4 linked regions of the Homo sapiens genome follow. The protein of the gene in region 4 interacts with the protein of the main gene of each other region in a pairwise test. Each region holds a gene or a part of one and is shown on either strand. Other genes may lie near its edges. The genes, in order: TSNAX, ING5, CTNNBL1 and BEX3.

The links.
Region 1: the proteins of BEX3 (region 4) and TSNAX interact in binary tests that used the Homo sapiens proteins (3 or more experiments, as listed by UniProt).
Region 2: the proteins of BEX3 (region 4) and ING5 interact in binary tests that used the Homo sapiens proteins (3 or more experiments, as listed by UniProt).
Region 3: the proteins of BEX3 (region 4) and CTNNBL1 interact in binary tests that used the Homo sapiens proteins (3 or more experiments, as listed by UniProt).

What each region holds. Positions count from the first base shown.
Region 1 is NC_000001.11:231,537,773-231,545,948, reverse strand, and holds part of TSNAX (translin-associated protein X), read right to left. Parts: intron 3,469-8,176; coding exon 3,338-3,468; intron 1-3,337.
Region 2 is NC_000002.12:241,726,039-241,731,154, forward strand, and holds the end of ING5 (inhibitor of growth protein 5), read left to right. Parts: 3' UTR 1-3,440; downstream 3,441-5,116. UniProt on the Homo sapiens protein: Component of the HBO1 complex, which specifically mediates acetylation of histone H3 at 'Lys-14' (H3K14ac) and, to a lower extent, acetylation of histone H4. Component of the MOZ/MORF complex which has a histone H3 acetyltransferase activity.
Region 3 is NC_000020.11:37,688,498-37,697,300, forward strand, and holds the start of CTNNBL1 (beta-catenin-like protein 1), read left to right. Parts: upstream 1-5,532; 5' UTR 5,533-5,625; coding exon 5,626-5,655; intron 5,656-6,429; exon of another isoform or gene 6,430-6,536; intron 6,537-8,803. UniProt on the Homo sapiens protein: Component of the PRP19-CDC5L complex that forms an integral part of the spliceosome and is required for activating pre-mRNA splicing.
Region 4 is NC_000023.11:103,370,960-103,378,991, reverse strand, and holds BEX3 (protein BEX3), read right to left. Parts: upstream 2,379-8,032; intron 1,965-2,378; 5' UTR 1,886-1,964; exon of another isoform or gene 1,530-1,885; coding exon of another isoform or gene 1,471-1,529; coding exon 1,165-1,470; 3' UTR 828-1,164; downstream 1-827. UniProt on the Homo sapiens protein: May be a signaling adapter molecule involved in NGFR/p75NTR-mediated apoptosis induced by NGF. Plays a role in zinc-triggered neuronal death.

The sequences.
Region 1 (8,176 bases), on a different chromosome or scaffold from region 4:
CATGTGGGAAGAAACCAATGGTACCACGTGCTAGCTTATGACCCTGAGCATAACTTGTGAGCCTCAATCTCCCCGCCTGTGAAGTGGTAAAAATATCTATGATTTAGAGGTATTGCAAAAACCTATGAGATTGTGAATATAAAGAATAGTGGCTAAAAACATATCTTAACTGGCCCAAAACATCCACTTTACCCATCATTCACATTCTTGGATAAAAGAATTAAAACATTAATTAGGATATAAACTTAGTTTTGTGTACCGAAATGTCTCAAAAAATGACAATTCTTATCATTATCAGTGATATAAACTAAACTTAAGAAAAAAACATGTATTTCTTCTTTGAAATGGAGGACATTTCCCCCAAACTGTTAATTTTTCAACAAGAGGGAAAAAAAAAATGACAGGACACAAATTTTTTTTTAAAGACTTATTTCAAGCAGCTAATTATTTGTTCATTTGTTTAACCATCCCTTGGGACAATCTGTAATCTACTCTGATAAGAAATGTGTAGAAAACAGACCTGACGTTTTGTTGTTGTTCAATTATTAGGATACTCAATGTTTGAGCTCACACAAGTATCCCTTAGGGAAATGCTCTGCGTGCCATTAGCACTATTCTTAATGAGGAAAAGCACAGAACTCCTTTAGTTCATTGCCAGAATTGTTTTATCTTCAAGTCAAAAGAACAACTATTTGGAGTAATACCAAAACAAGCATTTAACAATTACAAGCAGCAAGCTATTCATAAGCATCATATTGTTAATGCTAATCCAATTATAAATAACCTTATTTTATCAAATAAAATATCTGTCAGCAAAATTTTCGGTCCTAGACACCTCTTTACTTGACTGCTTTATTCCTTAACTTTAAGAAAAAACATCTTTATTGCTTCAATTCAAAGAATCTCATTTTAAAGACTTTTTACAGAAAAGATACAGAAAATCCTTCATTATTTTAATCCATGAGTAAGTTATCTTCAAAGGAAACTTACAAATCATAAACGAAGGCCTAAAAGAGACCACTGTGCTTATAATAATCCTCAATGATACAGTGAAGTAGGAAAATCTGAAGATCTATCATTCCCATTTTCTTAATGTCCTATCTTTCCAAGAGTACAGCACTTCCTTCCTGCATTAGGAAATAATCTACTGAATATTTCCCTTTCACCTTTTTCTCTCCATTTCTCTGTTCTGTAAGACAATGTACAGCTTTCTAGGTTGCTTTTGGTATCATTATCTATATGGCCTTGGCCCTTATTTAAACTCTTTATCTTTATACTTCACTGATGCATGAGGACATACAAAATAGAACTACTGGGCCAAATACAGCAAATCTGAAATGTCCCATATGTCCCACAGATATTTGGGGAACTTGATGTTGTCACAATTAGTAGAGCCTAATCATGCACTAATAAGGAATTGAGAAGTCTAAACATGAAAAACTTTTTCACACATGAGGCACCAACATTTTGGGGAAAATATGTGAATTTTTATTAAAATACAAGTTTTAAGCAGACTGAAGTCCAAAGTGAGAACTACTGTGATCAGCTTTTATTACATTTATTAACTGTCATGAATTTTTGCAAGATAGGCATACTACATGATGATGTGATAGAAAAAATGATAAAGATTATGGAAGTTATTCAAACTCTTGCCTTTAGTCATTCAGGTTAATAGGATACTTAGGAAAAGCTGTAGAATTGGATTTCTGTTTAATACAGACATTTAGACTGTACTGCTGCTTCAGTTCAAGCACTTTCCAGAAACTAAGAGACCTAACTTGGTCCCCCACCACCACCAACACTACCACCCAGTAGCCCTCAAGATTACACACGCATACCTAACTTATGTATAGCAGGACTACTCTGTCTGAAATATTTTCCTGCTATGAATCTATCTGTAGTATGGTCACAGCTACTATTATAAAGATATTCTCATGTTTTCTGCCAAGCTTGATTTACCTTTTACTTCACCCTTCTTCCCACCAGTACTTCTGATCCTGTCTCCCACTCCAGCCAAATCTGTCACACTTTACAGGTTGTGCCACTTTACAACAAACTAAATTCATGAAGTCATCTTTATTGTGTGTGCTATTATTAAGAAATCAAATAAACCCCTGATATTAATAAATTATGATGGCAGACTGTATTTCATTTGGTAATATGTTATAATGACTCCTCACAGAACTGTTTTACACTTCAGTTTCCAACAATGCACCCTCAGTTTTAACTAATGTATGCTGGTACTTTCTCTTACCCATATTAGAAGACATATCAACATTTCTGAAAAAACAAGTGCTGAAATTATAAACGTTTAGGCTAAAACTGGGTATTCGTATTAAGCAGATACCAAATAAACTCATTTCCCAGTCTTCCTGCAAATCTTAGGGTACTGATATTGAGCATTCCTAATCCAAAAATCCTAAATCCGAAATGGTCCAAAATCCAAAACGTTTTGAGTGCTGACACGATGCTCAAAGGTCATGCTTAAAAGAAATGCTCATTGGAGCATTTCAGGTTCCTGGATTAGAGATGCTCAAGCAGTAAACTGTGAATATTTCAACACTCAAAATCTGAAACACTTCTGTTCCCAAGCATTTTGGATAAGGGATACTGAACCTGTATCTGAATTATCTAGTATCTGTCCTATCAATGAACCCACATTAGAAAAAGAAGAAAGAGGAAAGAACCAAGCACTTTATACATTTATTCAATTTATTTGAAAATAATGATAACCACCAAGATCCAGTATACCCTCAAAATTTTTTTTTTTTGAGACGGAGTCTTGTGCTGACGCCCAGGCTGGAGTGCAGTGGTGCGATCTCGGCTCACTGCAACCTCCACCTCCCGGGTTCAAGTGATTCTCCTGCCTCAGCCTCCGGAGTAGCTGGGATTACAGGCGCCCGCCAACGCACCTGGCTAAGTTTTGTATTTTTTAGTTGAGTCGGGGTTTCACCATCTTGGCCAGGCTGGTCTCGAACTCCTGACCTGGTGATCCACCCGCCTCGGCCTTCCAAAGTGCTGGGATTACAGGCGTGAGCCACCACTGAGATGTGCCCTGTCTGAACACATCCTACATACTCAAGAATAAAGTTCATCCTATTAAATCTGTGTTCTCAAATACTTTATTAAAATCAATCAATGACCATCACTACACTGTTAAAAAAAACATAAAGCCAACTTGCCTTTGGATTACTTCTATATTACTACAAAGTTGCAGTTCTTTAAAAGCCAGTATTATTATTTCATCAGGTGTCACTTAAAATTCATGCAACTCACATGTTAATCATGTAGCACACCATTTAAAATATATATTACCCTGAAACAAACCTAGACTTACCTGTAGTAATGGCTCGATGGAACTGATGCATATCTTCCCCTGATAGCTCTTGGGCTACCTGGAATATCTTTTGTCTGACACCATCCAATTTAATTTCTGATTCAGTCAATATATCTTCCATATCAGGAGCACTATGATCAAGATATTGGGAACTTTTAGAACATCAGATGCTTTAACAGTGAAAAACTAAAATAACCTAATTATCAACATAGGGCTAAATATTGTATGCATTCATATACTTCTAACTCAAAACTACTCAAAACTATTCATAGTATGGAGAACATGAAAATGTTATTAACACACTGTTAAGTGAAAAAAGTATACAAAAATTGTATGTTTACTATAAGAAAAATTTTGTTCATAAAAATATGATATATGGATAAATGTCTGCTTTCAGTAAGGGCAGAGTAACGTGGACTGGATTTATCCTCCCTCCTTAAACAACTAAAAAGAAAAAATAAATACAGAAAACAATGGTTACAGACACTGGACTACAGGCAGCATGGAGCAGTGATCCCTGGGGAAAGGGAGGAGAACAACATATACCCTCTGACTGCCCCATCTTATTGCCTGGAAAGCTTCCAAGTGACAGTACAGAGACAGGAAACTTAGGTGGAGCCTGGGAGTCAGCCTGAGTAGAAAAGGAGTTGGGAGTTTTGGGGGATCGAGACAGCTAAAATTTGCAGAGCAGAGTAACAATGAGGAGAAAGCTGTATAAACAGAGAGCTTCAGAGATTTATAGAAGCAACCTCCTCAAGTCTTCAGTTGAGTACTGATCAGTGCAGGCATGTGAGGAAACTACCTAAGGCTGGAAAAAGAATTGCCCAAAGTGAGCAGGCAGAACAATCCCCTTAGTTCACAGAGCCGGAAAGAATTGATTTATCATCAGCAGATTGACACTACAAAAAATATTAAAAGAAGTTCTTTAGGCAAAAGGAAAATGATACCAGATAAAAATCTGAATCTATACACAAAGGAATGAACATTTACAAAAATTGGTAAATGTGGATAAATATTTTTCTTATTTTTAAATCATACTGTTTAAAGTAAAAATCATAACATATTGTGGAAACAACAAAAGTAGAAATAACATGAATCACAACAGTAGCACAAAAGGCCAAGCTAGTAGAGGGGAAATGGAAAAGGAAGTATAAGATTTTTATACCATACGCGAAATGATAAGTAGTCCTTACTTTGCATGGTACTGTGTTAACTGAAACTTGGGCACATCAAAACTGTGACCTTCACTGGCAAAGTAACTGTTACCAAAAAATCATGCAAAGTGAAAAGATTCTTGTATGCACAAATTTTAGTAAACACAGTATTGTACAAAGTGAGAATAGTTGACAATAAGATATATATTATGAACCATAAAACAATCACTACAAAAACAAAACAAAAAAGGCATAGCTAATAAGCCTACAAATAAGATAAAATGGGATCATAAAAAATTATCCAAAATAAGGCAGGAAGGAGAGAAGAATAGATGGTAGATTTAATTATAACCATAGCAATAACTGCATTAAATGTAAACGGTCTAAACACCTGCACTAACAAGCAGAGATTTTCAGAATGGATTTTTAAAAAGCAAGAGAGACAAGAAATCCATGTTAAATATAAACACAAATAGATTAAAAATAAAAGGATGAAAAGATATACGTTCTAATAACAATCAAACGAAACAGGAGTAGCTATATTAACATCAAACTTTGGGCAAAGCCTATATCCAGGGATACCATCATAATGATAAAGGGTCAATTCATTAAATGCATAACAATCCTAAATATTAATGTACCAAATAAAAGAGCTTCAAGATACTTGAAGAAAAAACTGATAGGACTTCAAGGAGAAAGTCAAATCTACAATTATCGTCAAGAGAGGTCACCCTCTTTCTCTCTTAATAACTGATAGAGCGAGTGTACAGAAAATCATAAGGAAATAAGTGACGCGAACACCACTATCAGCCAATCTGACTTAATTACACCTAACAATAACAGAATACACACTCTTCAAGTGCACACACAACATTTACCAGATAGACCATATCCTGGGCCAAAATTAAGGCTCCATAAATTTAAAAGGATTCAAATTATAGAAAGTATGTTCTCTGACCACATGAAATTAAATTAGAAATCAGTATCAGAAAGTCGTCTGGAAAACTCCCAAAATATTTGGACACAAAATAACATACTTAAATTATTCTTGGGTCAAAGGTGAAATCAAAATGAAAATTAGCACCAATAAATTTCAAAACTTAGAGGAAATGGCAAATTCCTTGAAAGACACAAACTACTGAAGCTCACTGAAGAAGAGTTATCTATGTCTATTAAAATAATTTTGTAGTTAAAATACATGAGGTCCTCTCACAACAGTTTTTCAGCTGTACTGTGACTGGCTCATTTCTTTCATAAAGTTTTTTTTTTTTTTTTTTTTTTTTTGAGACAGAGTCCTATTCTGTCACCCAGGCTGGATTGCAGTGGCACAATTCTGAGTTCAAGCAACCTCCGCTTCCTGAGTTCAAGCAATTCTCCTGCCTCAGCCTCCCGAGTAGCTGGGATGCCACCAAGCCCGGCTAATTTTTATATTTTCAGTAGAGACAGGGTTTCGCCATGTTGGCCAGGCTGGTCTCAAACTCCTGACCTCAAGTGATCTGCCTGCCTTGGCCTCCCAAAGTGCTGGGATTACAGGCATGAGCCTCCACATCCAGCCTCTTTCATGAAGTATCTTTACTTTCCTGAAGTTTCTAATATTTCTAAAGTTTCTATTTTTTTCTTAAGTTTCTTATTTTTCTGAAGTCTATTATTTTCTCAGTTTACTAGTCAAAACTGTATGAACAGTATGATCACAACTATGATAAAAAACAGTGCACAAAATAAGAAATCTGCTAGTTGATAGAGGCTATCTTTGGGTACTACAGACTGATTTGTCTCATTAAGTAGCTTTACCTTTCTGCCATTCGTAATTTTTCTAAAGACTACCATTTTCTAAGTTTACTATAATGAGCATTTATTTTTTGGTGGAAAAATATTTAAAAGATGACTTCACACAGTAACGCAGATTTTTCTAAAATATTAAGGTCTCCTGTCATATTCCTATTACAGGTTGAGCATCCCTAATCTGAAAATCCGAAATCCAAAATGCTCCAAAATCCAAAACTTTCTTAGCAACAAGACACTCTAAGGAAATGCTCACAAGAGCACTTCAGATTTCAGATTTCCAGATAAGGGATGCTCAACCCATACATTATCTGCAAGTATTCCAAAATCCGAAATCCAAAACACTTCCAGTCCCAAGCATTTAGGATACTCAATCTGTATGTTTTTCTTTATATTATTGCTTTTGTTATTTATATTACTGCTGAATACTGATGGCAATTGTTTTAGAATTGTAATAAGTACTAAAAAAAAGTGTCCATAATTAATAAGAACAGTATTGCTTCTTTCGATAATACAAGCCTTATTATGTACAAGCTATCTAAGAATGATATGAGAAAACAAGCAAAAACTAATTTTACACAGTCAGGTAAGAAAAAGAAAATGTTAACAGTGCCATATTTCAATAAATCTATGTATGGCAAATTAGATTCCATTTAATGAAGTAAAAATTAAAATGTGAGAATTATCTTAAAAGTTTCATGTTACTGAACGGAATACTTCAGTATCTTTTTTTTTTTTTTTTTTGAGACAGGGTCTCATTCTGTCGCCCAGGCTGGGGTACAGTGGCACAATCATGGCTCACTGCAGCCTTGACCACCTGGGCTCAATCAATCCTCCTGCCTCAGTCTCCTGAGCAGCTGGGACTACACTTGCATACCACCATCTCCAGCTAGTTTTTTGTATTTTTTGTAGAGATGGGGTTTTGCCATGTTGCCCATACAGGTGTGAGCCACCATGCCCGGGCAATAATATCTTCAATAACGAAAAGCTAATAAATTATATGTGATCTTCCCTACATTCTTTCTGTGACATATAGTATAAAACCAATCACAGCTACCCTTCTGGAGACATCTGGAATTTGTAACAACAATCCGTCTTCAGAAGCTGGACTAAAACACGTAAGCTGGGGAGTTGTAGGGTAGATACTATTCTACCTCTCGTGAAACAGGCAAAGGAATCAGGTCAAATGAATTATGAAGCAAACAAAGAAGCAAAGATGGAAGATGGAGATCCTCAGCTGCTCATAAGATAGTGCTGAATCTTGGGAAGTTCTAATTTTTCTGAAGTCTGCTATTTTCTCAGTTTACTAGTCAAAACTGTATGAATAATATGATTACAACTGTAATAGAAAATAGTGCATAAAATAAGAAATCTGCTAGTTGATAGTGGCTTTTTTTATAATTAATTTCCCCGTTCTGCTTAGACTAGTTTAAGTTAGTTTCTTTTACTTGCAATCACGAAGTCTATCAAATATACAAAGCCTGCGTAGAAAAATAAAATAGTAAAGTCCTAGAGAAAAAAATGTAAACAAAAGTCACAAAACTGAAACAGGAACTTTCGAAAAAGAATTAAGTAGTCAACAGTATCATATGCTACAAAAATGTAAAATAAGAAAACAGAGACTTAATAATATGAAGGTAACAAGGGCATTTCAATAATTGTGAGGCAGAAAGCCAGACTGCCATGAGTTCAAAAATGAACGAGAAAATAGGTTATGCAGATTTTAACATTTATCTAATATTAAAATTTTCACGCATATCATCCAAATAAAGTTTAATGTAACAGGCTCTAACAATCAAAATATATCATATATTTTCACAGACAATAGCTATATCTTAATGAATAATCTTAACACAAAATCCCTAGCTGCTCTGAATTTTTCTTTCTTAAGTCCACCCAACCC
Region 2 (5,116 bases), on a different chromosome or scaffold from region 4:
CGGAGCCATCCTTTCGGTGGTAGTTGGGGAAGGCTATGCAGATTTGCTCTGTTGTGACGCGTTGGTGACGGTGCCCAGCCTGCGGTTCCCCACAGCATCGCAGGCGCTCGGAAATCCTCTCCCGTGCCTTTAGAGGAAGGAGAGGATTGCTGAGGAATGCAGGGACGCCTGTTTCTGTCCTCACACCACAGAAAGAAACCTGAGGGAAAACTGAGACGTGAGGTTCCTGATTTAAGAAGCCTGGGTTTCTTCATGGTGGGGGGCCATTTGGAATGACAGCCTCACTTCCTTCTGATGGCTACATCTGTATCTTTTCCTCCTGTGTTTAATGTTTCACTAGGGAGAGGAAATAAAGCAGAAGGAACGTGTGAAGCTCTGTGTCTCAGACGGGGCCCTCCCGTCGAGAAGCTGGTAGTCAGTGAGTGAGAACAAGAGAACAAGAACACCCTGAACAGTCCTGGTTGGGATGGTGTCCACATTCATGTTCTGCGGTTCTTGAACACACGGATGCCTCTGGGCCACCTGTCCTTTTCCGAGGGTGTGGGTGGGAGTGGATCCTCCGGGCGCAGGTGCCAGGCAGGTGCAGGCGGGCGGTCGGCCACTGCTGCTGCTCGTCCCTGCCAGTGTCTGGGCCTGAAGGGGCTCCCTCCAAGCGGTGCCTTCCTGCGGCTTAGAAGGGAAAGCGCCAGAGAGGGCAGGCTACAGTGCTTCACACCCTTCGCCACGGCTGTGAAACTGGAGATGGGTGGGTTTTGTATGTTAATTTTTTTTTTTGAGACGGAGTCTTGCTCTGTCACCCAGGCTGGAGAGCAGTGGCGTGATCTCGGCTCACTGCAAGCTCCGCCTCCCGGGTTCACGCCATTCTCCTGCCTCAGCCCCCCCGAGTAGCTGGGACTACAGGCGCCCGCCACCACGCCTGGCTAATTTTTTATATTTTTAGTAGAGACAGGGTTTCACCATGTTAACCAGGATGGTCTCGATCTCCTGACCTCACGATTTGCCCGCCTCGGCTTCCCAGAGTGCTGGGATTACAGGCGTGAGCCACCGCGCCTGGCCACCCAGCTAAGTTTGTATTTTTGTTGGAGACGGGGTTTCACCATATTGGCCAGACTGGTCTCAAACTCCTGGGGTCAAATGATCCGCCTGCGTCGGCTTCCCAGAGTGCTGGGATTACAGGTGTCAGCCACTGCGCTCAGCTGGGAGATGAATTTTCATTTAATGACTTAACTTTTTGTTAGCACAGGTTTTGTGTGTGTGTGTGTGTGTGTGTTTTGTTTTTTGTTTTGTGTTTTTGAAACGGAGTTTTGCTCTGTCACCCAGGCTGGAATGCAATGGCACCATCTTGGCTCACTGCAACCTCTGCTTCCTGGGTTCAAGTGATTCTCTTGCCTTAGCCTCCCGAGCAGCTGGGATTATAGGCGTCCACCACCACGCCCAGCTAATTTTTGTATTTTTAGTAGAAATGGGGTTTCACCATGTGTGGCCAGGCTGGTCTCGAACTCCTGACCTGAAGTGATCCACCCGCCTCGACCTCCCAAAGTGCTGGGATGACAGGCATGAGCCACCGCACCCGGCCAACACAGATGTTTATTGATCGTGGAGGATACATTGTGGAAAATGTTTTTCTCTCTTTTACCATTTTTGGGAAGAGGGATAGGTAAGTGCAGGGAGTTTGTGCTGAAACAGCGCCTGGCAATTTTTCAGAAATGAATTTGATATTGCGCTCCACCTTTGAGCTGTTCACACCTGTGGCTACCCCTGGAAAGCGCTGGGGTTGTTGATGCTTTTGGCTGCCCGGCTTCCTGAGGTCTCGCTGCTTTTTGGGGAAAGATGACTGGCTTCCCTGTGGGACGCTTTTGTCTGACACGTGATGATGTGGTCCTGCCTGCCACTGTGCACCATCCCAGGTATTGAATTTTGACCTTTTCTTTTCAAGTTTCTGTGCTTAGTGTTTTTAATGTTTACTTTTGCCACTTACAATAATATCACCAAAATAATATGCATAGAGTTTTGGAAGAAACATAGAAAACATGAGCAGAATGAGACAATTCCTTGGGCTGTAGTTTGGACCCAACTGAATCCTGAGTGCTCTGTGGCTGACGCTGTCTACCCGTGGGAGAGACACACTCAGGAGTGGCCGTTTGGCCAGAAAAGAAGGTCATGGCCCCTGGCCTGGCCCCCGCCCTGCAGGGACACAGAAGCCACACCATTTGCACCATCCACGCCTTGCTCCAGAAGGCCTGGCCGCCTTCTCCCTGGGGGTGATTCAAGGATTTGGTCTCGGACCAGACCCCCCTCCACAGCTGCCCGGCCCCAGACCCATCTCTTGGATTGAGGGTGTGTGGGCTGGAACCAGTGGGTCACTGTGGCAGCTTCATCTGAGCCGAAGGTGTGGGTCCTCTGTGGCTGTGCGATTGACCTCGATGGGAAGGAGCGTTCTACCCATTTTCCTTGTTTTCAGTGCTGCGGTATCAGTCAGTGATCTGAGGAAATCCTGTAGGGGAAGGCAGGCTGCAGTGAAAACAGGAGCTGGTGAAACCGAGCCCTCTGCATCTGCGAATGTGCCCTAGGTGCTGCTGCTGGGGACATGGATGCCAAGCGGAGGCCTGCGTGGCCTCCTGAGCAGCAGCTGACCGCCCGTCTCATGCTGGACGGGACCCCTGGGCGGGTGGACATGAGACCACTGTTGGCCAGGGACGCCGTGCGGAGGCCTACGTGGCTGCCTGAGCAGCAGCTGACCGCCCGTCTCACTGTTGGCCAGGGCTTTGTGGCGTGGGTGTTTTCCAGTCTGCCTGGAGCAGCGAGAAGCAGCTGTGCAGACTGGTGGCGGTGGGAGGGTTTGCTGGGACTGATGGGGACACCGGCCAGCTTGTCTGGTGTCCAGCAGCCCTGCCGGACTTGGCCTCCTGTCCTGTCGTTGGGAGCCCTGGCTGGGGCTGCTTTGAGCAATGACGCTGGCCCAGAGCAGCTTCCCACATGACCCCAGAGCCGAGGGTCTGCCCTGTCCTAGGTTAGGTCTTCATGGTTTAGAGTAAAACCGTGAGGGATGTTAATTATGGGCATTGAAGACTTAAGGTTTTCTTAAATTTTTAGTGAGCAGTGATTGGCCTTCAATACTTGTGCTGAGAGGAATTTTAAGCCAGGGGAAGTGTAAGAAAATGTTCCCATTCAGGAGAGATTGTGTTGGAGTTTCTTTCTTCCTCTGTATGTATTTTGTGGTGTCCACCTTTAACCACGTTTCATCCAAAACGATGATGCAGCTTTAACATGAATGTTACATTTTTATTTTCAAGGAATTATTATCTATGTTCCCTTTGTAAAGGAAAGATAATGTTGTAAATCTTTTTATTAGATAATGTAAAGATGTATATCAGTATTTTTGGATCATGTTATAGATTATGGATATATTGTTTAATAAATAAAGTATTTTTTGGAACAAACAATTGAAAGTGCATCTGTATTAGCCCGTTTTCACGCTGCTGATAAAGACATACCCGAGATTGGGTAATTTGTAAAGAAAAAGAGGTTTTTTTTAAAAAAAATTTTCTTTTCTCTTTTTTTGAGACGGAGTCTTGCTCTGTCACCCAGGCTGGAGTGCAATGGCACTGCATGATTTCGGCTCACTGTAACATCTGCCTCCCGGGTTCAGGTGATTCTCCTGCCTCAGCCTCCTGAGTAGCTGGGACTACAGGCACGTGCCACCACGCCCTGCTAATTTTTGTATTTTTAGTAGAGATGGGGTTTTGCCATGTTGGCCAAGCTGGTCTTGAACTCCTGACCTCAGGTGATCTGCCTGCCTCAGCCTCCCAAAGTGTTGGGATTACAGGCGTGAGCCACCGCACCTGACAGAAAAAGAGGTCTGGTGGACCCTCAGTTCCACATGGCTGGGGAGGCCTCACAATCATGGCGGGAGACGAAAGGCTTATCTTACATGGCAGCAGACAATAGAAAATGAGAGCCAAGTGAAAGGGGTTTCCCCTTAAAAAAACCATCAGATCTCGTGAGACTTATTCACTACCACGAGAAAAGTATGGGGGAACCACCCCCAAGACTCAGCATCATTTTGGGAAACAGGTGTAAAATGTCAGTGTTGTGCCCAGAGACAGGTGTGTGAAATTGAATTCTGAAGGGGTATGCAGTGATTGGAGAGTGGTTTGCGGAGCTTGCTGGCTGGGGGTCTGGGGAGGACCCTGTGCCTTACCTTGGGTGGTTGCTCAGGAAGCTCAGTGGCCAGTGCTGGGGCTCAAGTTGACTTCCAAGGAAGACGTGTGAGAATGCTGCAGTTGCTTTCTTTTTTTTTTGTTTGAGACGGAGTCTCACTCTGTTGCCCAGGCTGGAGTGCAGTGGTGCAATCTCTGCTCACTGCAAGCTCCGCCTCCCAGGTTCACGCCATTCTCCTGCCTGTGTCCCGAGTAGCTGGGACTACAGGCGCCCACCACCATGCCCGGCTAATTGTTTGTATTTTTAGTAGTGACAGGGTTTCACCGTGTTAGCCAGGATGGTCTCGATCTCCTGACCTCGTGATCCGCCTGCCTCGGCCTCCCAAAGTGCTGGGATTACAGGCGTGAGCCACCACGCCCGGCCGCTGCAGTTGCTTTCTAAAGGAGTACTGTGCTTGCTCTGGAAGGGCAAGACTTACCGTGTTGCACTTGCCTTTTGGAAGCTGCTGGAGTCAGCTTAGGCTCTGTATTAGTCCATTCTTGTATTGCTATAAAGAACGACCTGAGACTGTGTAATTTATAAAGAAATGAGGTTTAATTGACTCACAGTTCTGCAGGCTGTACAGGAAGCGTGGTGCGGAGGCCTCAGGAAACTTACATCATGGCAGAAGGCGGAGGGGAAGCAAGCACGTTTTACCACGGCAGACCAGGAGAGAAAGGGAGCAAAGGGGAAAGGTGCCACACTTTTAAACAAGCAGGTCTCCTGAGAGTTCACTTACCTCCACAAGAACAGCAAGGGGAAATCTGCGCCCATGAGCCAGTCACCTCCTACCAGGCCCCTCCCCCAACATTGGGGATTATGGGCGGGGACACAAATCCAAACCATATCAGGCTGTTATCACAATACCACAGACTGGGAGGCTTAAGAAAAATGTCTTATATTTCTGGAGATTGGA
Region 3 (8,803 bases), on a different chromosome or scaffold from region 4:
GAATAAGAAGCAGAGGGAACAGACTCTTCCTGAGCCCCAGAAATTGCATTCTGCTCCCCAGAAAACAGGTTCCCCTTTCCATTGCCCACTCTGTAACTCTTCCCCACCCATTCAGGTACTGATTGGAAGAGTCAGGATTTCTTCAGCAGTCTCGTATGTTTCAAATCAACCCAAGATTGTAGGGTAGGAGCTCAATATTGATGATAAATATATTTTATAAGTGTGTTTTTGAGAATATTTTCTTAAAGGCTCTTCCAATAAATAATTTACTGGGCAATGAAAAATGGAGAAGGTGACTCTGATTACACTTTGGAGCATCTAAAGTGTGAAGTTTAAGGAACCTAGGCAGCCCATGGCTATTTAAAAGCTTTCTGGAAGGGGTAATTCTTCCACATTTTTTTTAAAGGTTACAGCCCAGCAGTTGGTCTCTTGAATGGTGCTCTTCTCCTAACTCCCTCCTGGATGCCACTCTGAAATCATTATCGTCACAATTTCATTCTGCTTGGTGCATAGCACATAGCTCTTCTGAGCATTCCTTTTTTTGTCTTTAAAATTGAAATAGTCACATTGTTAGGATTTTGGGTGAGAAGTAAAAAAAAAATTTTTTTCTGAGACAGGATCTTGCTCTGTTGCCCAGGCTGGAGTGCAGTGGTGTGATCTTGGCTTACTGCAGCCCCAACATCATTGGCTCAAGTGATCCTCCCACCTCAGCCTCCTGAGTAGCTGGGATTCCAGGCACATGCCACCATACCCAGCTAATATTTTTATTTTTATTTTGTAGAGGCAGGGTCTTACTTTGTTTCTCAGGCTGGTTTCAAACTCCTGGCCTCAAGGGATCCTCCTGTCTTGGTCTCCCACAGTGCTGGGATTATATAGGTAGGAGGCATCACACCTGGCCTTTGGGTGAGAATTTGAAGGTATTTGAGATTGTTATGACCAGGAATTAATGAATCAATCAATCAGTAGATTAGTTGGTTCATTTATTAAATCAACAACTATTTAGTGAGTAACAATTAAGTGCCAGGTACTGTGTTAGGTTCTGAGTTTACTGTGGTAAATGATACAGCAATCTTTGCTCTTCTGGAGCTTAGAATCTGGAAGGGAAAGCAGTCCACAAATGGGTAAAAAGCAAACAAATATAAAAACAAAAACAATAAGTGTTCTGAAGATAATAATGGTCAGGAATGCTGATAGAGAATCTTGAAGGGGAGGAACTGTCTTAAATCTTGTGGTCAGGAAAGATTCCTCTGATGTGTGCAATTAAGCTGAGACCTGAAGGGTGAGCGCCCCAAGTCTCATTCCTGGGGGTTCCCAAAGAATTATTAATGGACCCTCTCATCAAGATAAAATGAAAATATCTTAATCTGGCATTCAAGTTTCTCCAAGATTAGGGTTGCCAGATAAAATAAATAATGCCCATTTAATTCTGAATTTCAGACAGAAAACATTTTTAGTATGTTATTAAATATTGCATGAGACAAATTTATAAAAAATTCATTATTTGTCTGAAATTCAGATTTAACTGGGTGTCCTGTATTTTTATTTGCTAAATCTGTTAACCCTCTTCGTGATCTTCTCCAGCCAGCCTCTCCACCTTTTCTTCCACACATTTGAAGCTCTGTCCACAAGGAAGGGTCCAATTGCCTTGTCTTTGCTCATGCTGTTCCCTCTGCCTGGGTCACCATTCTCCCACTGTATCTTCTTGGTAAACTCTTCTTTCCCTTTAAACCCCTGTCCAGATGTTACGTTCTCAGGGAAACCTCTAGCAGAGCACATTAGCCCCAGTTCAGGGTGCTCACCAAACCTGGTTCTTATAGGATTTTGCCTTATAATTCTGTGTTTTAGAACTGGTCTCTACAAAAACAGACAAGACTGATTGCCTAAAAAGGAAAGGTTATAAGGAATTCTCTCATTCTTCCTGCCCTCTCCCTTGCCCCTATCCCACTCAACTCCTTTTTCTTTCTTTTTTTTTTTTTTTTTTTTGAGAGACAAGGTCTTGCTCTGTCACCCAGGATGCAGTGGCACAATCCTGGCTCACTGCAACCTCTGCCTCCTGGGCTCAAGTGATTCTCCAGCCTCAGCCTCCTGAGTAGCCGAGACTACAGGCACGTGCCACCACATCTGGCTAAATTTTTTTTCTATTTTTTTGTAGAGACAGGGTCTCACTATGTTGCCCAGGCTGGTCTCGAACTCCTGGGCTCAAGGGATCCGCCTTGGTCTCCCAAAGCTCTGGGATTACAGACATGAGCCACCGTGCCCAGCTGCCAACTCCTTACAATATTAATATAAGACACACAGCACTTTTCTGTGCCAGGCACTGTGCCAAGTGCTTTGCATACAGCATTTCATGTAAACCCTCCATAACCTTATGAGGTAGATTTGGTTGAATCTCCACTTTGCAGGTGAGAAAATCAGGCATGTAGAGGTGAAGTTCATTGCCACTGTTTCCACATCTGTAAAATAAGACTCATATCAACATTTTCTCCATGAGGTTTTCACCCAAACTAGAATGTAGGTTTCCAGAAGGCAGGAGCTTTGTTTTATAAACTTCCATATCCTCAGAGCCCAGAATTGTGCCTAGCATTGAGTAGGCTCTCAGTAAATACTTGTTGAATGAATGAATGAATGAATGAGTCATGTTACAGATAAGGAAAGTGTAATTTAGGGACAGAGAAAGTAACTTACCCAAGGACCCATGGCTAGATATGGTGGAACTTCCACTAGAACCAGAATCAGGGTGTGTTGGGTAGATGTTTAACAACTGGCTCGGCTGGGTGCAGTGGCTCATGCCTGTAATCCCAGCACTTTGTGAGGCCAAGGCGGGGGGATTGCTTGAGCTCATGAGTTTGAGACCAGCCTGGGCAGCATGGTGAAACTCTATTTCTACAACAACAGCAACAACAACAACAACAACAAAATAAGCCAGGCATGGTGGCGCACGCCTGTAGTCCTAGCTATTTGGGAGGCTGAGGTGGGCTTCAGCCCGGGAGGGGGAGGTTGCAGTGAGCTGAGATCCCGCCACTGCACTCCAGCCTGGGTGATAGAGCCCGAGCTTGTCTCAAAAGCAAACAAAGAAACAAAAAAACCCTACAAGTAGCTCTCTGGAAAAACAACAACATTAACAACCCTGATTTGTAGCATTTGCTGATTTACATTGTACAAATACTCCTAGCATGGCTGATTTCAAGCTATCAACCTGGTGTCAATCAGCTTGCAAGTTTCCTACAAATTTAACCATGGGCTTTTGTAGACCTGTCTGTGCAAGCTGGCATCAACATACCATGAACTAGAACACAGGGGTCTGGGTCCAAAGGGTACACCCTCACCATTACTCTCTCCTGTCTTCCCAAACAAGGCACAGTCTATATTCTATTTTTTTTTTTTTTTTTTGAGACGTAGTCTTGCTCTGTCGCCAGGCTGGAGTGCAGTGGTGCCATCTTGGCTCACTACAATCTCCACCTCCCTGGTTCAAGCGATTCCCCTGCCTCAGCCTCCCAAGTAGCTGGGACTACAGGCACGTGCCACCACACCTGGCTAATTTTTTGTATTTTAGTAGAGATGGGTTTTCACCATGTGGGCCAGGAAGATCTCAATCTCCTGACCTCGTGATCTGCCCTCCTCGGCCTCCCAAAGTGCTGGGATTACAGGCGTGAGCTACCACACCCGGCCGGGCACAGTCCATATTCTTATATAAGTAGGAGGGGGAAAGACACCCAAATAGACTGAATTCAATGCAGATTGCATAGGTGATCCTTTAAAAACATAAGCCCAGTCACAAAACTACCTTGCTTAAAACTTTCCTTATGCCGTTAGCATAAAATCCAATCTCTCTCTCTTTTTTTTTTTTTTTTTTTTGAGACAGAGTCTTGCTCTGTCACCCAGGCTGGAGTGCAGTGGTGGAATCTCAGCTCACTACAGCCTCTGCCTCCTGGGTTCAAGCGATTCTCCTGCTTCAGCCTCCCAAGTAGAGGCATGTGCCACCATGCCCAGCTAATTTTTGTAATTTTTAGTAGAGACGAGGTTTCACCATGGTGGTCAGGCTGGTCTCAAACTCCTGACTTCAAGTGATCTGCCCGCCTTGGCCTCCTAAAGTGCTGAGCTTACAGGCGTGAGCCACCACGCCCGGCCACGCCTAGCCAAAATCTAATCTCTTTACCATGGCACACAAGGCCCATTATGAAACCTCTCCCTCTACCAGGCACTGTACTAGGCTTGGGGGATACAGTGGTGAACATGACACACACATGTCCTGCTTGCATAGAGCTTGCAATCCAGTAAATGAGGCTGTCAAGAAACAAATAGTCAACCATTAAGCACAAAATTACAGAATGAGATATATACGTAGTGGAGCAGGTACTTGGAAAAAGAATAATGAGGAGAGAGGTTGATTACCTGGACCAGGGTGAGTTGAAGAAGCCCTTGTAAGAAAGTGACATTTGAGACCCGAAAGATGAGAGAATTGGATGAGGTATGGTGCTGATGGCCAGGCAGAAGGGGAGAGGATTTGTCATTCTGAGGAATAAGAATAATTTCTGTATAATTGGAGCCAGTGCAGATGGGATGGGGACCAAAATTATAAATATGAAGGGCATATAAATATAATATAATACATAAATATAATTATAAATATAAAGGACAGGGGCTTATGGAAGGAGGTTTAATTTCCTTTGAAGATGGAGCCTTAAGTCCCAGGTGCATTCTGATCTTGTTTAAGATCAGATGCACTCTGAATGATTCTCTTCCAATTATGGGCAACTTTCTCCTCCAGAAACCTTTTTATATCACCTGGGTAGCAAGGGGATCATCTAGTGACCGTTAGACTTCGCATAGATGAGCAGACACAAGCCTAGAGAGGGACATGTGATCACCAATAGTTTCTCAGCCAGTAATAGTTGTACAGCCTTGGAACAAGTCACTTTTTGAGCCAGCACTATCTGATAGAAATTAATGGGAACCACAAATGAGAGCCACATGTGTAATTTAAAACTTTCTACTAACCACATTTAAGAAGTAAAGAGAAACAGGTAAAATTCATTTTATAATATATGAATTTGACCCAGTATATCCAAAATATCATTTCAACCTGTAATCAATGTAAGTCTTAGAAATCTGGTGTGTATTTTATTTACACTTATGGCACATCTCACTTCGGAGTAGCCATATCTCAAGCGCTCGGTAGCCATATGTGGCTAGTGAGTAAAGTATTGGATGGTGCAGTTGGGAGCGTCAGTTTCCTTTTCTGTGAAATGAGGATAAATCACTGGAAGCTCGTGAGAGCGCACACGAAACACCCGGCACTCCGCCCTGGACACTAGGGACGCGCAATCAAGTTTGGTTTCTTCTGGTCCCTGCTCTCCCCTCCCGCCCCTCCTCTAAGTCTCCGCCCCCTTTCCCCGCCCCCTCAGGCTCCAGGCGGAAGCAACCCTGTTCCAAATGCAGCGCGCTTTACGGCGGCGCGTCCTTTTACCGCGGTGTGGCCGGCTCGCTTGTCGCTCGCACTTTTGCCCTATTGGCTCTGCGGCTCCGCTCGCCGCACTTTACGGCAGTGTGGCTGGAGCCGCGGCTGACGGGCCCGCGGTCTGGGCGTGAGTGCAGGGAAGTGGAGTATTTGCTGGGCCGGGTACCATGGACGTGGGCGAACTTCTGAGCTACCAGGTATGAGGGGCAGGGAGGGCCGAGCGACCGCGTTCTCACCTGGGCAGGGGTCGCAGGAGCCAGAGCCCTTTCATCTCACCTCCTCTCGCCTCACTCCCGGGCCCTCTAACTTCTCATGCCACCCGGGGTCTCAGCCCCTCGTTTTACTTTGCTCTCCGAAGCCCTCCTGGGCCCTTTCGATTCATCCCTTCTCAAGACCTGAGCCCTTCACCTCCTCTTCCTCACCCTGGGGCCTGGTTCCCTGAAACTCCTCTGAAACCCCAGACTATCCTTTTTTTCACAACCATGTCCTCTCAGCTCTCATGTCCCCCCAGTCATTGAGGTGATGGTGGTGGCGGCGGTGGGAGTGCACTGGTCTCACTTGGATTTGATCTCCAGCTTCTCCACTGACTGGCTATGTGGCTTTTGGACAAGTCATTCCCCCCCTCTTTGAACCAAGTTTTTGTATCTATATAGTGGAGACACTAATAACTGCCTTAGTAGGGTTGTTTGAGGACTGTACCAACTGATATGTATGAAAGCTGGTTTTAAAGTGTGGAAAGCTGTGCTTGTGTTTACTGCGATTTGCAGGAGATGTTGGGAATTCTAGCATGGAATGAGTTTCTAGGAATCTTGCTCAGGGTCCCCCTTGCCTAGGAAACTTGTGGGGAAACTGTATGGGACCTAGAGAGCAGAAAGGGCTTGTCCAAAGTCACTCAGAAACAAGGAGCTGGAATTTGAGCTCAGGCGTACTGACTTCCACCCCAAAGTTTTTCCCCCACTTTGATTCCATAGGAGGGTCATTGCGAGGAGCAGTAGAGCTGCACTGCCGAATGTCGTAGCCACTAGCCACATAGGCTGTTGATTGCTTGAAATGTGACTAGTCTGAATTGAGAAATACTGTAAGTATAAAGACACATTTGGGTTGGAGACTAGTATGGAAAAAGTGAAATTTTTATATTGATTACATGATCGTACTGATTATATCAATTACATTGGTTATTGGTCATATTGATTAAATGATCATATTTTGGATAATGGGTGAAATAAAATATACTTAATTAATTTTTAAAATTTTATTTTATTGTTATTTAGAGACAGGATCTTGCTCTGTCGCCCATGCTGGAGTGCAGTGGCACAATCATTGCTCACAGTAGCCTTAAACTCCTAGGTCTAAGGTATCCTCCCAAGTAGCTAGGACTGCAGGCAGGCATCACTATGCTTGGCTGATTTTTAAATTTTTTGTAGAGACAGGGTCTTGCTATGTTGCCCAAGATGGTCTCAAACTCCTAGCCTCAAGCAGTCTTCCCACTTGGCCTCCCAAAGTGCTGGGATTACAGGTATGAGCCACCACACACCACACTCAGCCAATAAAATATGTTTAAAACCAATTTTAACTGCCCCTCTTGACATTTTAATGTGTTTACTAGAAAATTTAAAACAACATATATAGTTCAGCTTATATTTTTGTTAGACAGCCCTGCAGTCAAGAATAGGTGATTAAGAGCCATGAGTCTGGACCCCTAGGTTGCTGGCAGTCTCTGTTTTGCTACTAACTGGCTGCTGTAACCTTGAACAAAATACTTAATTTCTCTCTGCCTTGGTTTCTTCATCTGTAAATGGGGGACAGTGACGGTAGCTGCCTCACAGGGCTGTTGTGAAGCTGTTGAGAAATGGAAAGTCCTTAGACAATGCTTGCCAAAGAGTAAACATTCAGTAAATATTAGCAGTTATTTTCATACCACTCCCTCAGCCAAAGTACAAGAAATTGACCCTGGACGCTTAAGACATCATGGGAAAGAACAGTTCAGCAATGGGGAGCTATATAGCCAAGAGATTTTTCTTTTAAAGACAGTTTAATTGATAGTGAAAGATGAAGGGAAATAGGCAAGTTATTAAATCAGTGATTGTATGCCGGCTTGGAATTTCTAGAATGGCTAGCCCATTAAAGCTAGAAGAGTTTCATTCATTTGCTCAACAAATATATATTGAACACCTACTGTGTGCAAGGCAGTCTATCCACTGGGTATACAACACTGAATAAAAGACAAGATTCTTGCTTTTGTGGAGCATCTGGTGGGAAGTTACAAGATAATAAGTAAACAATGCATTCAGTTTGTGGTAAGTGCTGGGAAGGGAATATAGCAGAGTATGCTATAAAATTGCACTGCTTTGTATAGTAGCCACTAGGCACATGTGATTATTGAATACTTAAAATGTGACTAGTTTCGAATTTAGATCTGCTACATGTGCAAAATACACACTGGATTTCAAAGATTTAGTATGAAAATAATGTACAATATCTTTTTTTTTTTTTTTTTTTTTTTTTGAGATGGAGTTTCACTCTTGTTGCCCAGGCTGGAGTGCAATGGTGAGATCTCAGCTGACTGCAACCTCTGCCTCTTGGGTTCAAGCGATTCTCCTGCCTCAGCCTCCTGAGTAGCTGGGATTACGGGCATGCGCCACCACGCCTGGCTAATTTTTGTATTTTTAGTAGAGATGGGGTTTCTCCATGTTGGTCAGGCTGGTCTTGACTCCCAACCTCAGGTGATCTGCCAGCCTTGGCCTCCCAAAGTGCTGTGATTACAGGCGTGAGCCACTGCCCCTGGCCACGTGAAAATAATGTACAGTACCTTAACTTTTATGCTGATTACATGTTGAATAAATGATAACACTTACGATATATTGGATTAAAGAAAATATATTATTAAAATTAATGTTGCTTTTTAAAAAACTTTTAAAATGTGGCTACTAGAAAATGTAAAGTGGGCCGGGTGTGGTAGCTCATGCCTGTAATCCCAGCACTTTGGAAGGCTGAGGCGGGTGGGTCACCTGAGGTTGGGAGTTTGAGACCAGCCTGACCAACATGAAGAAACCATGTCTCTACTAAAAATATAAAAAATTAGCCGGGCGTGGTGGTGCATGCCTGTAATCCCAGCTACTTGGGAGGCTGAGGCAGGAGAATTGCTTGAACCTGGGAGGTAGAGGTTGCAGTGAGCTGAGATCATCCCATTGCACTCCAGCCTGGGCAACAAGAGCGAAACTCTCTCTCAAAGAAAAAAAAAAAGAAAGAAAATGTAAAGTTAGGTGTTTTGTTTGTGGCTTTTGTTGTATTTTTATTGGACAACACTCCTGTCGAAAATAACCCCTGGGAGTTGGGGACAGGACC
Region 4 (8,032 bases):
TACCTTGAAGACCCTAGCACCTCATCAACAGCAACAGAAATAGGATCCAGCAGAAGGGAAAGTGTGGCCAATCAAGAAGGCAGTAATCAGGGGAGCAGGAGGATTGCAAATAACAAGAATGATATGGGGGAACCCACCTATTTTCACTGTCTGGACTTGTAAACATGAGTGATAATTCCTCCAGTCCTAAGTACCTGATGGGGGTCCCGGTCCTGTTAAATGTTGGGGAGTTGGGGACAGAAGCCAGCCCAACACAGTTCCACATTTCATCAGTTCCACTCAGCAGCCCTGTAAGACAAGCATTGTTCCCCATTTCACAGAGCAGAAAACGGGCTCTTTAAAGGAATGCATCTGTAATAAAGGGAAGGTTTATTATTCCAGTTAAGACTGAAGGATAGTTAGAGTTTACTCTTCAAATTTGTTGAGCCAGTATTGTTACGTATCTGCACTACATTCATAATCTCATTGAAAAATAATTTTCATTGCTTCTCAAACTCCAGATAATAAAAGGAAAAAAATGTCACATATTACTTTTTTTTTTTTGAGACTGTCTGGCTCTGTCGTCCAGGCTGGAGTGCAGTGGCGTGATCTCGGCTCACTGCAACCTCCGCCTTCCGGGTTCAAGCCATTCTCCTGCCTCAGCCTCCCGAGTAGCTGGGATTACAGGCGTGTGCCATCACGACCGGCTAATTTTTTGTATTTTTTTTTCAGTAGAGACAGGGTTTCACCGTGTTAGCCAGGATGGTCTCGATCTCCTGACCTCGTGATCTGCCTACCTTAGCCTCCCAAAGTGCTGGGATTAGTTAACACACAGAAATGTTCACCAATTAACACTCTAGTGTATTTAATCTCAGATTTTTTTTTAGTTCATCTGTTATATGTAAGTATACATTTTTAATGAGACAATAAATGTATAGATTGCTTTTTAAATTGCTTTATTAGCTTTAAATTTTTCCATGCAAATGGGTGAAACTACTGCTGACAGAAACTTACACTGAGTGCAAAGGCAATCTTCAAATAGAAGCTGGCAACACAAGACCCACTTGACACATGGAAATAACATAGGGTTCACAGCAAACGGATCAGTAAAGGCATATTAGGAAAATGCAAGGAAAAAGAAAACAGCGGGAATCACAGTATTAATCTCATGATAAATGGCAGGAGTCAAGGCATAAGGCAAAATTCATCATGATGGTCATGGTGATTAGAGAGCTCCCCCATAAGGATACGCAGACAATTCCTCAACTGCAGCTCCCTAAGTTTTCTTCTGATTTCTCTCATCTCCTCCATGAATATTTCCATATCATCTCCATCTCCACCCATCCCATCATTGATCTGCCTATTGGGTATGGCCCATCGAAAATTAGGGGCAAGTCGGCGAGCCTGTCCCCGTCGATTTCCTGCAGGCTGGTGGCCTTCACCTCCTCCCAAAGGGCGGTCTTCCTCTCCATTCTGCATAGGCTGCTCCATCTCTTCGTTTTCCTGGTGAATATTTGCCATGATGAGATTTTTTTTTTCTGGTTGTTTTTCTTTGAACACAAGTAAGACAAAGGCAAGGAGAGAGACTGAATGCTTGGTGCTCTGACCAGCAGGATTCAGAGCCCTGATATCAAAGGATTTTTTAATTTCGTTTTTTCCCACCTTAGAAGTTCCGCGCGTCCTCTACGGGGCCTCCAATTAAAGCCCCTCCCTCCAGCTTTCTCCCCTTACCTCCCTTCCCCCAAACCCACCATTTTTCGTTTCCCGGGATTCTTTCCCAGAGCTTTGCAGGCACCAAAATGGAGGACCGGTATAGGAGTGGGGGATGGGGTGGAGGGGGTTGGGGTCTCAGACTGGGCTTTCCTTACGTTCCGACCCCCGCCCCACCACCGTCCCTCGCACCGACCTGGGCCTATCCTTGCAGTCTCCTTCTCCTCCGGATTCTCGCCGCGAGGTGCGCCGCGGAGACACTTAGCCTCGCAGACCTGCAGTCGAGCCGGGGTGGGGGTTGTGGGGGGTGGGGGCTGCTGCAGCGGAACGCTAGCGAAGACCCGCCGCCGCCCGGCCCTTTCCGTGCTCCGAGCCCGGGCTCCCCTCGCTGCCAGCGCCCCGCGTCTCCCGCCCCCCACCCCCACCCCACCCTCGAACGCCCAGCCCCCCGCGGTGTTCGCTGTTTTCCTGCAGGGACTCGGGGGTGGGTTTCCATCGCTCTTGGTGGCTCTGCCGCCCCTGGAAACCCAGCCGCCCCTGCTTCCCCATCCCTGGGGGCCTCTGTGTTCCCAAGCATGTTGGGGTGTGGAGAAAGCTGGCGGGGACCCCCTGCGCTGTTCTGCGCCTGTCGCCGAGGTCGGTCAGCCGCTGCTGGCATGGCCGGGGCTCACGGGCCCCGGAGCCCTTACCTGCTCCGCTTTTCCCCGGGCCGAATGCCAGCCCGCCGAGCTCAGGGCAGCGGGGAGCTGGTAGCCAGACGCGAGTGACGACTGCACCGAAGGCTGCGTCGCTCTGCAGCTCTGGGTCACGTGAGGGCCGCGCGTCACCACCGAGCTCGCCCCCCAACTTGGGCGGCCAGTGCAGCAGGATCTCCCCCTTCCCCCCACCCGCCACCGCCATATGCACGCGCAAAAAACAGCCTCCCTACTCCCGTCTGCATGAGGTGCCCCAGAGCGCACAGCCCTGTCACTCTTCTCGGTCCTCTCCAATCTGAGGGCCCACAAGTGGCATCACTGCTCTGCGGTTGGAGTTTGCCCTCCTCTGGTTACCAGGGAGGGTCTGCATCATCCTCCACCACTGCCCCCTCTCACTTCAGGCCTTGGCTTTGGCCTTTTCTGCTTTCTCTCCTTTTCTACCTGGCAACATGCTTTGCGCTGCACTCCCACTTCTACCCCTTGCGTGTGCACAGCCATCAATGCCCACGTAGCCCCTGAATTCCTACCCTTCTAGAAAATTTAGAGTGAGGGCTAAGGTGGGGAGGCAGGAGGGCATTTGTCAGAAAGCGGGGCAAGGAAGTGGAGTGGACTGTATATATTTCTTTTTATTTCCTTAAAAAATCTGCATGCTTCAGAAAATTATAAATTATAAGTTTTTAATTTTGAAAGAAATGCTGGTTGGGCGCGGTGGCGTACCTGTAATCCCAGCACTTTGGGAGGCCGAGGCGGGTGGATCACTTGAGGCCAGTAGTGTGAGACCAGCCTGGCCAACATGGTGAGACCCCATCTCTACTAAAAATACAAAAATTAGCTGGGCGTGGTGGCGTGCGCCTGTAATCCCAGCTACTCGGGGGGCTGAGGCAGGAGAATCGCTTGAACCTGGGAGGCGGAGGTTGCAGTGAGCCGGGATCGCACCACTGCACTCCAGCCTGGGCGACAGAGCAAGACCCTGTCAAAAAAAAAAAAAAAAAAAAAAAAAAAAAAGGAAATGCTTTATCCTGCACAATGAAATCTCTCATTGTTTATGTTGACCTGTACCACACAAAATATTTTTTCTGGGCTCCACACAACATCAAGCCATTACTTTTGATACATACTAGCTCGTTTAAAATTTTATTTTTGGCCGGGCATGGTGGCTCACGCCTGTAATCCCAGCACTTTGGGAGGCCGAGGCGGGCGGATCACGAGGTCAGGAGATCGAGACCATCCTGGCTAATACGGTGAAACTCCGTCTCTACTAAAAATACAAAAAAATTAGCCAGGCGTGGTGGCACGTGCCTGTAGTCCCAGCTACTCGGGAGGCTGAGGCAGGAGAATCGTTGAACCCGGGAGGCAGAGGTTGCAGTGAGCCGCGTCGCACCACTGCACTTCAGTCTAGGCGGCAGAGCGAGACTCCGTCTCCAAAAAAAAAAAAAAGAAAAGAAAAAAATATATAAAAAGGCGGGACTCTTTCTTTTTCTTTTTTTTTTTTCCCCCGAGACGGAGTCTCGCTCTGTCGCCCAGGCTGGAGTCAGTGGCGCGATCTCGGCTCACTGCAAGCTCCGCCTCCAGGGTTCATGCCATTCTCCTGCTTCAGCCTCCGGAGTAGCTGGGACTACAGGCGCCTGAAAGGCGGGACTCTTTCTGAACACAGTTGGTGTTTTCGAAATGATCTGTAAAGTGAATCTTCAGGGAGCAGTCTGGTCGTCAGATCTTCACCATTTTATGTAACTTTGATGTTTTTGATATCACAGTCATCAGAGAAAGGGAGTCTTTTATTCCCTGCTTTCCTTTCCAAACCTTTCAAACCATCCCTACAAATATCTTCTTAGTATGAGCTCAGAAGTTAAGTACATATTATGCAGAAAGTAGTTTCAAAACCATCTACCCTTTGGTGCGAATGTTTCAAAATATATTAGAAATAAGCAGGGGGTGTGTGAAACAACTTAACTTGAGACTGAACCTTATCCTGAGTGCAAATGTTCCTTTCTCCAACTTGAAATCATTTTTAAAAAAATTATCACAGCTAGAAAATAGAGATGTCTTTAGAAAAGTGGCATTGTTATAAAAAATATTTGATATCTGTTGTTTATGATAAGGAACCAAAAGCATTAAATGCAGCACTGAGGCAAGACAAGCCAGACAAATGCTTACTAACTCTAGTTTTGGCCCCAAACTCCTGTAGAATTTCCTACCCTGCTAAACCAGATGACACAGTGAATAAAGGAAGAGTATATGCCCAGTGTGTATGTAGTTAGACGTTTTGGAGATATGTATTCCATATAAAATTACATATATATTCTTCTAGAGGTATATGGATATATTAGTACATAGCTCCAAAACATCAAATTATAAAATCACACTCAATATTTGTCTTTTAAAGAAATGTTAGTGATTCCTGGATTCTGTCTCACAGTTAAGAACTTTTTATACAGATTGCTATATTAATGATATCAGCTGGAATGATGCAGTTTCAAAGCATGAACAGTAGTATCAGACAAGTCTGGCTTCAAATTCAGTCAGCTGTTTACTTGATGTTCAACTTTGGATCAATTACTTATCAAGGTCTGTGTGCTTCCTCTGTGAAACAAGGATTGTTAGAATTACACATAACAATAATTTACTACATAGCCTAGTAAATCATCAATTTTTGTTGACATTATTTTTATTGTTATTCGATGGTTTCTAACATGATTTAAAGAGTAGCAGAGTATGATTCTTTCCTTAGCTAGACCCACTTGTTCTTAAAATCCATGAGGGCCCAAAACATGCTTGCTGTGTTCTATTTTGTGTACCCAGTGACTAATAGTGTTCCTTGCACCAAGTAGGTGATTACTGAATACTTGTTGAATGAATGTATCCAGTACTGAGGCGAATAGGTTGTTTTTCATTCTGGGGACTGTATTTAGAGCAATACGGAAAAGCTTTTATGAAAATTAAGAATTACCTAGAAAAAAATCTCCTGAAAGCTGAGAAGCCACTGTGATGTGACTATTGGATATGAAGTTTAGCAAGTGGATTTTTATTTCTTTTGGTGGCTAAATGCTTTGCTGTTTTCCTTTTCACCCATCTTGGATAAATCCTGTGTTCAAAACCATCAAATTTCCTTGGATGAAAACAGACATTTGTTTGTAACATCCAGATTGGATATTATGCTATATTGATTAGTTGTAATAAAGTAATGTTTTAAAGATAGGTGAAAATTATCCGGGAAATGCTGTTATCTTTACTAAAATGTTGTGAATAGGAGTTGATTGAGATGTTTTCTTGACCCTGAAGTTTTCTGAGGAGTTGGAAATAGACAGCACACTGTTGAGAACAAAAACAAATTTTTTCAAGGCCAAGTTAGAAGGACACTATATTCTGCATTTGGGATTCATGTGTCCCAAAAGGCAGAGAGAAGGTGAACTGATTAGATGGTTCTTATCCCCACACACACGTTTTACACATGTTTCAAGCCCAGGAGCCTCAATTCTAATCTGCCCTGGAGGCACCAGGAGGACTCAGAATGAAAAGTGAGATTGGCATTTGAAAATGAATAGAACCAAATCTTTAGTCTGACTGAAACTATTTTAATAAGCAGTAGTGACTGAAAAGTTGGAGAACTGGACAGAAATGTAGTTAAAGAAGCCCATTGCCCCATGCGAAGTGGGGGAGGGAGTGATAGAAAGAACACTGCTGATACAGCTATTGGAAAAATAAAACTGTTTCATGATTTGACCTCAACTAGTGAAGATCCCTCTATTGTATTAGTATCCCATCAGTGGAAGCTCGTTTTTGCTGAAATCTTTATGTGTATTGCCATGACATGGCTCACATGTACTTGTCTGAAATGCACCTGGTTGGACTGTGGTTATTGTCCTGTTTTCCTCTCATTATCTCTCCTGTGTAAATGCTAGGCTTGGGAGAAGGTAGTCTGAGCCCTAGTGGGCCCTGTGGGTATGAGTATCTCTGTTCCTGCCTAGAATAGGTTCTCTATGTACCTCTCTGATGCTTTACTGATACTTTTTTATTGTGATTCTCTCTTTCTCTCTAAATTTAAGCACCGATTACAGACTGAAACTAGGTGTTAAGAATATAGGAAATTATGCCTACTCCAGCTTTCCTCTAAGCTATGGCCATTATAACTTTGATGCCAAGATTTCCAAAATGTGGAATGAATCTGATGAAATTTTAAGGGTGTCACTGTAAGAGTTTCAATGATTTGGGAGATAATATATTTAATTCAAGAGATCTAGTCTGAAAAAATAAAAGGGCTATGAGACTAAGATGTCTGAACGTGAAAGCAGCAAATATTCAGCACCTCATTATCTATTGGGGAACTGAGGGGTATTCTTTTCTTTATTTCATGGATTGCAGATAATATCTTGAGACACCGGAGACCCGTGGCCACTCTTTCCTGTTGTTTAGGACTCTGGTGGAAAAGGAGCTCTGCCCTATGCAGTCTCCTAAACTGATGACATTAGCTGGACTATGTGTAGGCCAAGAGAACTCCTTTGGCCCTTCTAGCTTTAGGCTGAGGTGAGCACCTTTCTTACTTTTCCCAGGACTTAGGGATGAACTTTGAGGAGTAACAAAACTCATGCATAAACGTTCATGAAGTCACTTTATCTTATTTCACTGTTACTACTCCCATGTAAGTTCCATTGCTAGTATACAGTGCAACAAGGGGAACCTGATTTTTTTTTTTTTTTTGAGACGGAGTCTCGCTCTGTCGCCCAGGCTGGAGTGCAGTGGCACAATCTCAGCTCACTGCCACCTCCGCCTCCTGGGTTCACACCATTCTCCTGCCTCAGCCTCCCGAGTAGCTAGGACTACAGGCGCCTGCCACCATGCCCGGCTAATTTTTTATATTTTTTAGTAGAGACGGGGTTTCACCGTGTTAGCCAGGATGGTCTCGATCTCCTGATCTTGTGATCCACCCGCCTTGGCCTCCCAGAGTGCTGGGATTACAGGCGTGAGCCACCGCGCCTGGCCAGGGAACCTGATTTTTCACACAAATTTAAAAGACAGAGAAGAAACAGGAGAAATATATTTATACCATATGTGCTATGGGTTGAATTGTATCCCCCCAAGATATATATTGAAGTCCTAAGCCTTATAACCTCTGATTGTGACCTTGTTTGGAAACAGAGCCTTTGAAAATATATTCAAATTAAGGTGATGTCATTAAGCTGGGCCCTAATACAATATGACTGGTGTCCTTATAAGAAGAGGAAAACCAATCCAAGGACAGAGGCAGAGATTACAGTGATGCAGCTTCAAGCCAAAGAATGCCAAGGGTTGACAACCATGACTAAAAGCTAGGAAGAGGCAAGAAAAGAATCTACCCAGAGTCTCTGAGGAAACATGGCTCTGCTGACTCCTTGATTTTGAAATTCTAGCTTCCAGAGCCATGAAAGGACACATTTTTGTTGTTTTAAGCCACCCAGTTTGTGATACTTTGTTACAGCCATCCTAGGAAACCAACAATATGTGAAAGAAAAAGAAAGTTAACATCCATTATATTTAAAGAGCTCTTACAAATTAATAAGAAAAAAATGAACATACCAATGGGAAAATGAGCAATGGATATGAATAAGTAGTTTACAAAAGAAACAAACATGGCCAATAAAAAAATTTATTATTTTAACAAATAATAGTTGAGC